Linked DNA regions of Homo sapiens: region 1 is linked to region 2. The links come from fine-mapping of genetic effects on gene expression. A gene starts in region 2. The other region holds a variant in brackets. All regions are shown on one strand. Distances are from middle to middle. Region 1 has its middle 3.5 kb from the start of LINC01620. Region 2 holds the start of SERINC3 (serine incorporator 3).

Region 1 (4,398 bases), 53 kb before region 2:
AACCACAGTGCCAGATCCCCGCAGCTCATCTCTTCATCTTGGTTTTGCCACAGAAAGAGCAAGTGTACTTGGCCTGCTGGCTGATTTCAACTTTCTTCACCATTTTCCAGAGGGAGGCCCCATAGCGGGTCCCGTATTTACCGACGATCCCGACTTTCTTGGTAGGTTTGGCCATGTCACCGCGAACTAGGTCCGAGCCCAGAGAGTTGGACTGGGCTTTTAAAAAACAGTTACTGGTTGTCACAGCAGAGCTTTCTAGAAACATCTTACAAGTCATGTCCACCACCCCCAGCCTCAGTTTTTTCATATCCTTACTGCGGGTGGCAGCACCTTACTGGGTGGGGGTTTGTGGTGAGGGCTGAGTGAAGTAGTGAATTTGCGGAGCTAACACTCCAGAATTCCACAATCACAGACCTGCAAATTCCATCTCCGTGGGACCATTTACAAGTGATGTGGCTTCTCTGAGTCTGTTTACTCCTTTGTTAAATGGAAGAGCCTCTACTCCATTGCATCTCTGTAAGGTTAGTTAAGTGAATACATATGACATGCTTAGCACGGGACCTGGCACCTGGTAAGAACTCAGTCCATGCTGGGCGTTTTTAATACAACGGTGGGTGGCTGGTACTGACGGAGGGGATTTGGGATCTCCACCCCTTCCGTTTCCCTCACTATTCCAGGCCCTGTTTTGGAAATGCTTCAGCCAGGCTGGGATCCAGGGCCCCTGGGAACAGAGAGGACATACTGTACCTCCAAGCAGCCATGCTGACTCAGGTTAGGAAATCAATGTGTGACCACAAAAACACAGCCAGGTTCTTCCCACTTCTGGGAAATCTGCACAGCCAACCCATGGGCATCTCTTTACCCTGTCCCGAGAGGTGGCCAGCTTCGTTCTAGGACCTGATTCTGCAGCTTGTGAGCACAAGGCTGGCACATGGAGAAACAGGAGTCTCTCGCTCCTTAGGGAACCCCAGGCCCGGGGTCACAAGCTTTGCACGACCCTCTGATTGGGGTCAAACATGTCTGGTGTTTGCGAAGCCTCTGACTTCCCCCAGCCTGCGTCTGGACACTTCTCAAGCCAAGCCAGGCTCCGGACCACTGGTTGGGCAACGCATGACCTCAAACTGGGTCAGACCCATCAGATGAGCATCTGTTTAAGAGTATAGGACACTTTGTTCTTTAGAATCCCAAGGGTCAGAGTATGAACCCTCCCCGTCCCCAATTCAAACTCCTCCTCCATCACTTACTGCCATTTACTTACTCTGTTACTTTGAGCAAGTTTTTCAGCTCTCTGAGTTCTAGTTTTCCTAGCCACCAAATGCAGACTAACAAGTACCTTCACCTTCCAGGGTTGATGTGAGATTCGGGTAGTGAATGTCAAAGAATGGCACACATATTAGCAGGCACTCCATAAGGGGGAGTTATTATTGCAAACAGGGGCACTAGACACCAAGTAAAAAACAGTATGGTACATATGCTACAGTGGATGAGAGGGCAGAGCTGAAAGCCAGACTGCCTGGGTTCCAAACCAGGCTACTGGCCAGGTGCGGTGGCTCATGCCTGTAATCCTAGCACTTTGGGAGGCCAAGGCGGGTGGCTCACTTGAGGCCAGGAATTCGAGACCAACCTGGCCAATATGGCGAAACCCCATCTCTACTAAAAATGCAAATAAAATTAGCTGGGCGTGGTGGCATGTCCCTGTAATCCCAGCTACTC[A/G]GGAGACTGAGGCAAGAGAATAGCCTGAACCCAGGAGGCAGAGGTTGCAGTGAGCCAAGATTGTGCCACTGCACTCCAGCCTGGGCCACAGAGTGAGACGCTGCCTCAAAACAAAATAATACAAAACAAAACAGGCTGCCCTGCCACCTCCTGTGTGGCCACAGGGAAAGTCTCTAAGCCTCAGTTTTCTTCTCTGTAAAATGGGAATAATCATAATACAGTTATAAGGATTCAATTAGATTAGTTGCACTGGAAACAGTGCCTGGCACATAGTATCACCTAATAACCATTAACGATTTTTTATTTTGTTTTATTTTTCCAGTCTCTGCCCCAGTTGGGAAGCATGAACTATTTTTAATTAGCCACACAAGTTAGTAATGTCGGTAATGGTGCTGAAATCACACGGGTCAGTGTTTTGAACAAAATTCACATGGAAGTCATATTTAGTGAGCATCTACCTACATACCTGGTGCTAACAGAAACCATACATTTAGATACATGTATATGTACATGTAAACACACATATGCACACACACATAGTGTGAAGTAAGTGTTGCTGTCCTCATTTTTTAAAACCTTTATATTATAGAGCAAAACAGTTGCAGAAAACCACACAAATTAAATTTGTAGCAGCCAGGTGCAGTGGCTTACACCTGTAATCCCACCACTTTGAGAAGCCGAGGTGAGTAGATCACTTGAGCTCAGGAGTTTGAGACCAACCTGGGGAACATGGCAAAACCTGAAATGCCATCTCTACGAAAAATACATAAATTAGCCAGGCATGGTTGGCACGTACCTGTAGCCCCAGTTACTCAGGAGGCTGAAGCAGGAGGATTACTTGAGTCTAGGGAGGTCTGAGGCCACAGTGAGCTGAGATCACACTACTGTACTCCACCCCAGGCAACAAAGTGAGACACTATCTCAAAAAAAAAAAATTGTAGCTTAGTGAGTTATATCAAGGCAAACACCCTGTAACCACCACCCCGGTCAAAATACAGAATTTTTTCAGCCACCTCAGGGTTCCCCTCCCCACCTCACCAGGTACTCCATACCAATCACAGCCCATCCCCCCAAAATAATCACTAATCCGACTATTAATTACTTCCTTGCATTTCTTCATGACTTAATCATCTGAGTGTGCATTCCTAGATGTTATTGTTTAGTTGAGTCCACTTTTTATTTTTATTTATTTATTTTTTGTTGAGATGGAGTCTCGCTCAACCGCCCAGGCAGTGGCATGATCTTTCTTGGCTCACTGCAACCACCGTCTACCGTGTTCAACAGATTCTCCTGTCTCAGCCTCCCCAGTAGCTGGGATTACAGGCACCCACCATCATACCTGGCTAATTTTTGTATTTTAGTAGAGACGGAGTTTCTCCATGTTGGTCAGGCTGGTCTCGAACTCCGGACCTCAGGTGATCCGCCCGCCTCAGCCTCCCAAAGTGCTGGCATTACAGGCGTGAGCCGCCACTCCCGGCTAAACATATTTGATAAGTTTCAATCAACTGCAAGTATTGTCTTTGTTGCAGCTAAAATTGTTTCATCCACAGGCTGGCTTGTAAGTCCTTTTGGTGTGACCCTGGTAGCCTTCGATAGCTTCCTTGTTAATTGGCGTGACAAGATATTCCAGGCTTATTTTGTATATTTCCTGCTACAGATCTGGAATGAGTAATTTCTTCAAGAAGTCTTTTTATTTGTATTAATCAAAACTATTATCTGGGTGCAAGATATGCTCATTGCTACAAGATTGATTATGGTTTAAGTCTTTTTAATAGCTAGAACTAGGTATTATATATATGAATACACGCATATACATTTCCTTTAAAAATAGTTTCGAGTTCACATTGATATATCCAATGTAAATAGAGTTTTATAGGATGTTTATGGAATCTATTCTGTATTACACCTGTAGTTCCTTTCTTCCACACTTGGAATCTTTCATTTTCAAGGATACAGGGGCTGATAAAATGGAAAGATGCTATAATTACTGGTTAAAATGACTCAGTAATTCACAGGGGTTAAAAACTCCTTTAAACCTTAGGTTGTGTGGCAAACACCTTACACTCGCCCACTACTGGAGTTGGCAAACGCTTTCCAGTTTCAGCTGCTGTTTTCCCAACAACACGTGAATACATGTTGCAATTTTAGCACTCTCCATGTCTCAGGCCCGCCAGACACCTTGCTGCTTCCCTTCTGTTTCTACTGCACAGAGATGCCAATGGCATGCAGGCCTTGTAGCTGTTGGTGATTTGTCCCCACACGTTTTTTGGAGTTCATGAAGATGCCTTGTCACTTAGTTTTGTTGTAAATGTGTTTATGAATTTTTTTCTATTTTTATTTGGGGATTTGGGGATATTCAAATCTATGCTAGGCATTATTGCCTCCATCTTTCCAGAATTCCCCAGCTGGTATTATTTTCACCAATGAGGAAACTGAGCCCCAGGGGAAATGTGATTTGCCCAAGATCACACAGCCAGTGACAGCGCAGAGATGCATGTGAGGTCACCTGCTTTCATGCAAGGTACAGAGAAGATGCCTGATATGGACCACTCCCTCCTCATCTTCCTCCCTATTTCCACTGGTCAGTGTCTTTACAGGATTCTGGGGGGTTTGGTGGGGGGCTTTTTTGTTTGTTTTTTGAGGTGGAGTCTTGCTCTGTTGTTTAGGCTGGAGCGCAATGGCACG
Region 2 (4,398 bases):
GGTGGCTCACACCCCAGGAGTTCGAGACCAGCCTGGCCAACATGGCGAAATCCCGTCTTTATTGAAAATACAAAAATTAGCTGGGCGTGGTGGCATACACTATAATCCCAGCTACTCCGGGAGGCTGAAACATGAGAATCCCTTGGAGGTTGAAGAGAGCCGAGATGGCGCCACTGCCCCAGACAGAGCATGGAAGCTCCAGACCCGTTCCCTCTACACCTTGTCTTACATATCACTTCATCTGTATCTTTAAAAATATATTAATAGTAGCCATAAAAAAAGAAGAAAATCATGTCCTTTGCAGCAACAAAGATGCAGCTGGAGGCCACTATCCCAAGTGAATTAATACAGAAACAGAAAACCAAATACAGCATATTCTCGCTTACAAGTGGGAGCTAAACACTGGGAACACAGACACGAAGATGGCAACAATAAACACTGGAGAGTCCAAGAGTGGGGAAGGACGGTGGGGGGATAGGGGTTGAAAAACTACCTGTTGGATACTGTGTTCACTGTTTGGGCAACGGAATCATTAGAAACCCAAACCTCACGATAAGGCAATATACCCATGTAACAAAACTGCATATGTACCCTCTGAATCTAAAATTAAAAATACATAAATACACAAAATAAAATACTTTTATAATAAACCAGTAAACATGTTTCCTTGAGTTTTGTGACCAAATTAATCAAAGCCAAGGAGGGAGGTCACGGGAACTTTGATTTATAGGTGGCCGGTCAGAAGCACAGGTAAAACAACCTGAGGCTTGCCATTGGCACAGAAAGTGGGCACAGTCTTGTGAGACTGAGCCCTCCACTTGTGTGATTTGATGCTATCTCCAAGTAGAGAGCTTCGGAATTGACTTGTAGGGCACCAAGTTGGCATCCCCTGCAGAGCTGACTGTTTGCCTGATGTTTGGGGGAAAATCCCCACACACCACACATCAGGTGTCAAAAGTGTGTTGTGAGTACAGCAGGAGAAACTGAGTGTGCTTTTTCTACACACTTGGTCAATTAAATCAGCTGGAGAATGAGGAATCAAGGAATCACGCTCCTCTGAAGTGGGTAAATGAGGGAACTCAGCATATTCTTTTATAGGCCCTATAATTTTCTCTTTAAAATGTTTACAGTTTACAAGGTGATTAAACCTTCACTTCACTGTCACAATCGTTCTCGAAGAGAGGAATGCTGGGGTGATTATCCTCGGATAAATGACTTACAGCAGTCCCAAAATATTCAGGCCCTGGTTTCCAATTTTGAATAACAATCCACAAGGGCTTCTTTCCCTTGCACCTGAACTGCAGACAAGCCTCCGCTAAAACCCCAGCTTTGCCACACACTCTGTAGTTTTGGCAAATCCCGTGCTAGGGGATAAAAATATTACTTGAGCCACCTAGAACTAAATGATGGCACCTTAAGAGGTGCTTCGGGAGGAACCGGAGCCCCTCGCTGGGAGCTGTCATTCCTTGGTCCCTCTCCAGCTCCAGAGGAACCTAGTCAGGAAGCCTCGCAGGGCGGAGCCATCCGAATTGTAAACAATGGCGGCCTAGCCTCTTCCGTTCCCCGAGGAACCCGGAGGGCGAGCCGCCTAAGCTGGACCTGAGGGTATCGCGGATTTGCGTCTGGGGCCCCGGAGACCCTCTGTAGCCCAGGGCCTGCTGACATCCCGAGAGCCTCTGGAGCCAAGGCCCGTGCAGCTCTGGTCTCGAGGCCTTTCCCCGCAAACCGCAGGTCCGGCGAGGACTCGGGACCCCGAACTCACCCAGCTGGCGAGGGAGAAGACACCCAGCACAGCCCCCATGGTGACGCCAGTGATGGAGGTGGCCGGTCCTGAGGCTGCTTTCTAACACGGTGGTAACTGCCAGCTGAGGTGACTCCCCAGAAACATGACGGTTTCTCAGGCCGGAAACGCAGCCTTCCACAGACGCACGGATGCGTCACGGCGTGGCCCCGCCCACCGTCCGCGACCGGAGCGGCAGAGGGGGGCGCCTGTCATTGGCTGAGGGGGAAGGTGGGGCTAAACCATCCTGGGGTTGCAGGAACTGTGAAGGTGTCATTCCTTACATCATTTGTATTCATTGTGCAAAGATCTGGAAGTTACAGAAGTGTACAGAGAGGCACAGTACGCTCAGAATTTATTCTCTAGTTAATAGGAGATCTGACAACATAAATGCACCGTGCCCCAATGTAATGAATACGATGAAGTAGTATGGGGGAATAGGCTTTCAATAAAGGTGTATTTAGTGCCTCCTATTGTAAGGGGAAAGTAATTTAGCTGGGCAGTAGTCTTGGAAGGCTTCTCTGAAGGATTTATTTTTTAATCTGCGAACTAAAGGATGAGTCCAAATTAACCTAGAAACGATGGAAATCGTATCCTAAAATGTGGGATGCACCCCATTTGGGAAAAATGAATGGCTCTAAGGGTGCATGAAGGACATTAAGCGATATTAAACAGCAGAGTGAGAACGTCCCATTTCAAACCAACAGGCTAGTTGTTTGAGGCCAGTATGGTATTTAACATTTTTCTAGTATTTATCTCCCTTTCTAACAGAGTAAAGCCTTCATTTTCCAGATCTCTCAAACAGGCAACCATGCCTGCAGTTTTAAAATATTGTTTTGTTTTGAGGTGTGTGTTAGCAATAACCTTTTCATTTCTTCCGAGCAATGCTGATTTCCCATTTAAGCAGTGATGTAAATATTCCTTTCAAAATACATGTCAAATTTGAGAGTTCACTTAAAGAAGAAAATGAAAACATTTTTTACTTACACATATAATAGTTTAGGTGGAATGTGGCAAACAATGATGATGTCCGGACAACAAGGTGTCACACTTCAATATCTTCTCCTGTGGTGTGTTAATCTTCCCTGATAGATAAAACTCTCTGGAAGGGGATTCATAATTGAATTCCTTCTGGATTGTCAGCCTTTAGTCTGATAAGGGAAATTCATGAAAAGCCCCTCTCTCCATGTGCTGTTCCCCAAGCAATCATCATACCAGTGTGGCATATTTGGGGATGTTATTTCCTGGATTCCTTGAAAATGTATTCCAAATTCATCTTTTACAGAAATGGAATGAGGCTCAAAGTTTGCCCAAGGCCATGAAAAGGGCTGATGAAAGAAGAAAGAGAACTACTCACATTTAATAATTCCTACCTCTCTTTTCCCAGATCCCTCTCCTCACCACACATACACAAATACCAGCTCAAGTCAAGTTGCTTCAGGACCACTGAACTTTCCAGGTAGTCCTTAACATTCTTGCTTCTTCCTGTCTGAGTATTGCTGGTCTGGACTTAAGAGAGCTGACTGTGATAAATTTTACAGATCGAATTCTACCAGAAACATACCTGTAGTCAAAAAGAATTAGGTTTATTTAGCTTGTTCAGAAAGGGAGAACACATATCAGAGAAAATATAAGGTGTCTTGGTAAGAGGTGACTGGGGAGAACTTATTTTAGGATTTGGGTTTATGCTGGGTAACTAAATCTAAGGAGAGTTTAAGGAGGAGGAGAACAGTTTTGGATTGGACACAGTCAAGGAGTAGAGGCAATTCAGTGATTAGGTATCTTACAAATTTTTATCCAGAAGGAAGAAGGATTAAAACAAGGCTAGATTAGTCCTTGGAAAAGTGTGATACCCTACCTTGTCTTAACCTGAATTGACTCTCTCTTAGCTGAGGGAGACAGACAAACTCCATTTTGGCTCCTTCACTTGCCGCTCCTTACCCATCCCACTTCCTCAAGGATTTAACTTGTGCAAGCTGACTCCCAGCACATCAAAGAATGCAATTAACTGATAAGATACTGTGGCAAGCGATAGCTGCAGTTTCCAGGAATTCACCCGGTTGATAGTACCCTAAGCCCCTGCATTTTTGTCCGGTTGATGGTACCCAAAGCCCCCACATCTATCACCTTGTGATGGATTTAAAGCCCCTGCACCTGGAACTATTTGTTTTCCTGTAACCATTTGTCTTTTTAACTTTTTTGCCTGTTTTACTTCTGTAAGATTGCCTCAGCTAGGCTCCCCCTCCCCTTTCTAAACCAAAGTATAAAAGAAAATCTAGCCCCTTCTTCGGGGCCGAGAGAATTTTAAGCACTAGCCATCTCTCAGTTGCCGGCTAATAAAGGACTCCTGAATTCGTCTCAGAGTGTGGCGTTTCTCTATAATTCGCTCGGTTACAAAAAAAGAAGCAAAATCCACTCATTTATTAGTCAGAATTGGAAGATGTTGAGTCCTATCTGCGGTACCAGAGTGGCTTTGTCTGTATCTTGATCCAACTACATGGTGGTCTTGTCTGATCTTTGTTTATATTCTGTGATCACTGTTTTTGTTCAGTTAGAAACATTAGGTCTAGCTGTCAGCTGAACAGTTTTTCATTTTCTTACCTGTAAGCATTTGTCCT

Evidence for each region. PIP is the estimated chance that this variant, and not a neighbour inherited with it, causes the effect. A credible set is the group of variants that fine-mapping cannot tell apart.
Region 1: its variant is the best candidate, but not a certain one, in a credible set for the expression of SERINC3 in monocytes (Quach 2016, PIP 0.88).

What each region holds. Positions count from the first base shown.
Region 1 is chr20:44,466,668-44,471,065 of GRCh38, forward strand. It overlaps the pseudogene RPL37AP1. Among named protein-coding and RNA genes, the nearest start is that of LINC01620, 3.5 kb to the left of the region's middle. The variant A/G (reference allele first, on the strand shown) is at 1,714.
Region 2 is chr20:44,520,151-44,524,548 of GRCh38, forward strand. It overlaps SERINC3 (serine incorporator 3), which reads right to left and starts at 1,920. Exons shown (of 10, transcript NM_006811.4): 1 at 1,763-1,920. The coding sequence starts at 1,801. RefSeq lists enhancers at 1,131-1,683, 1,602-1,911, 1,818-2,112, 4,145-4,398.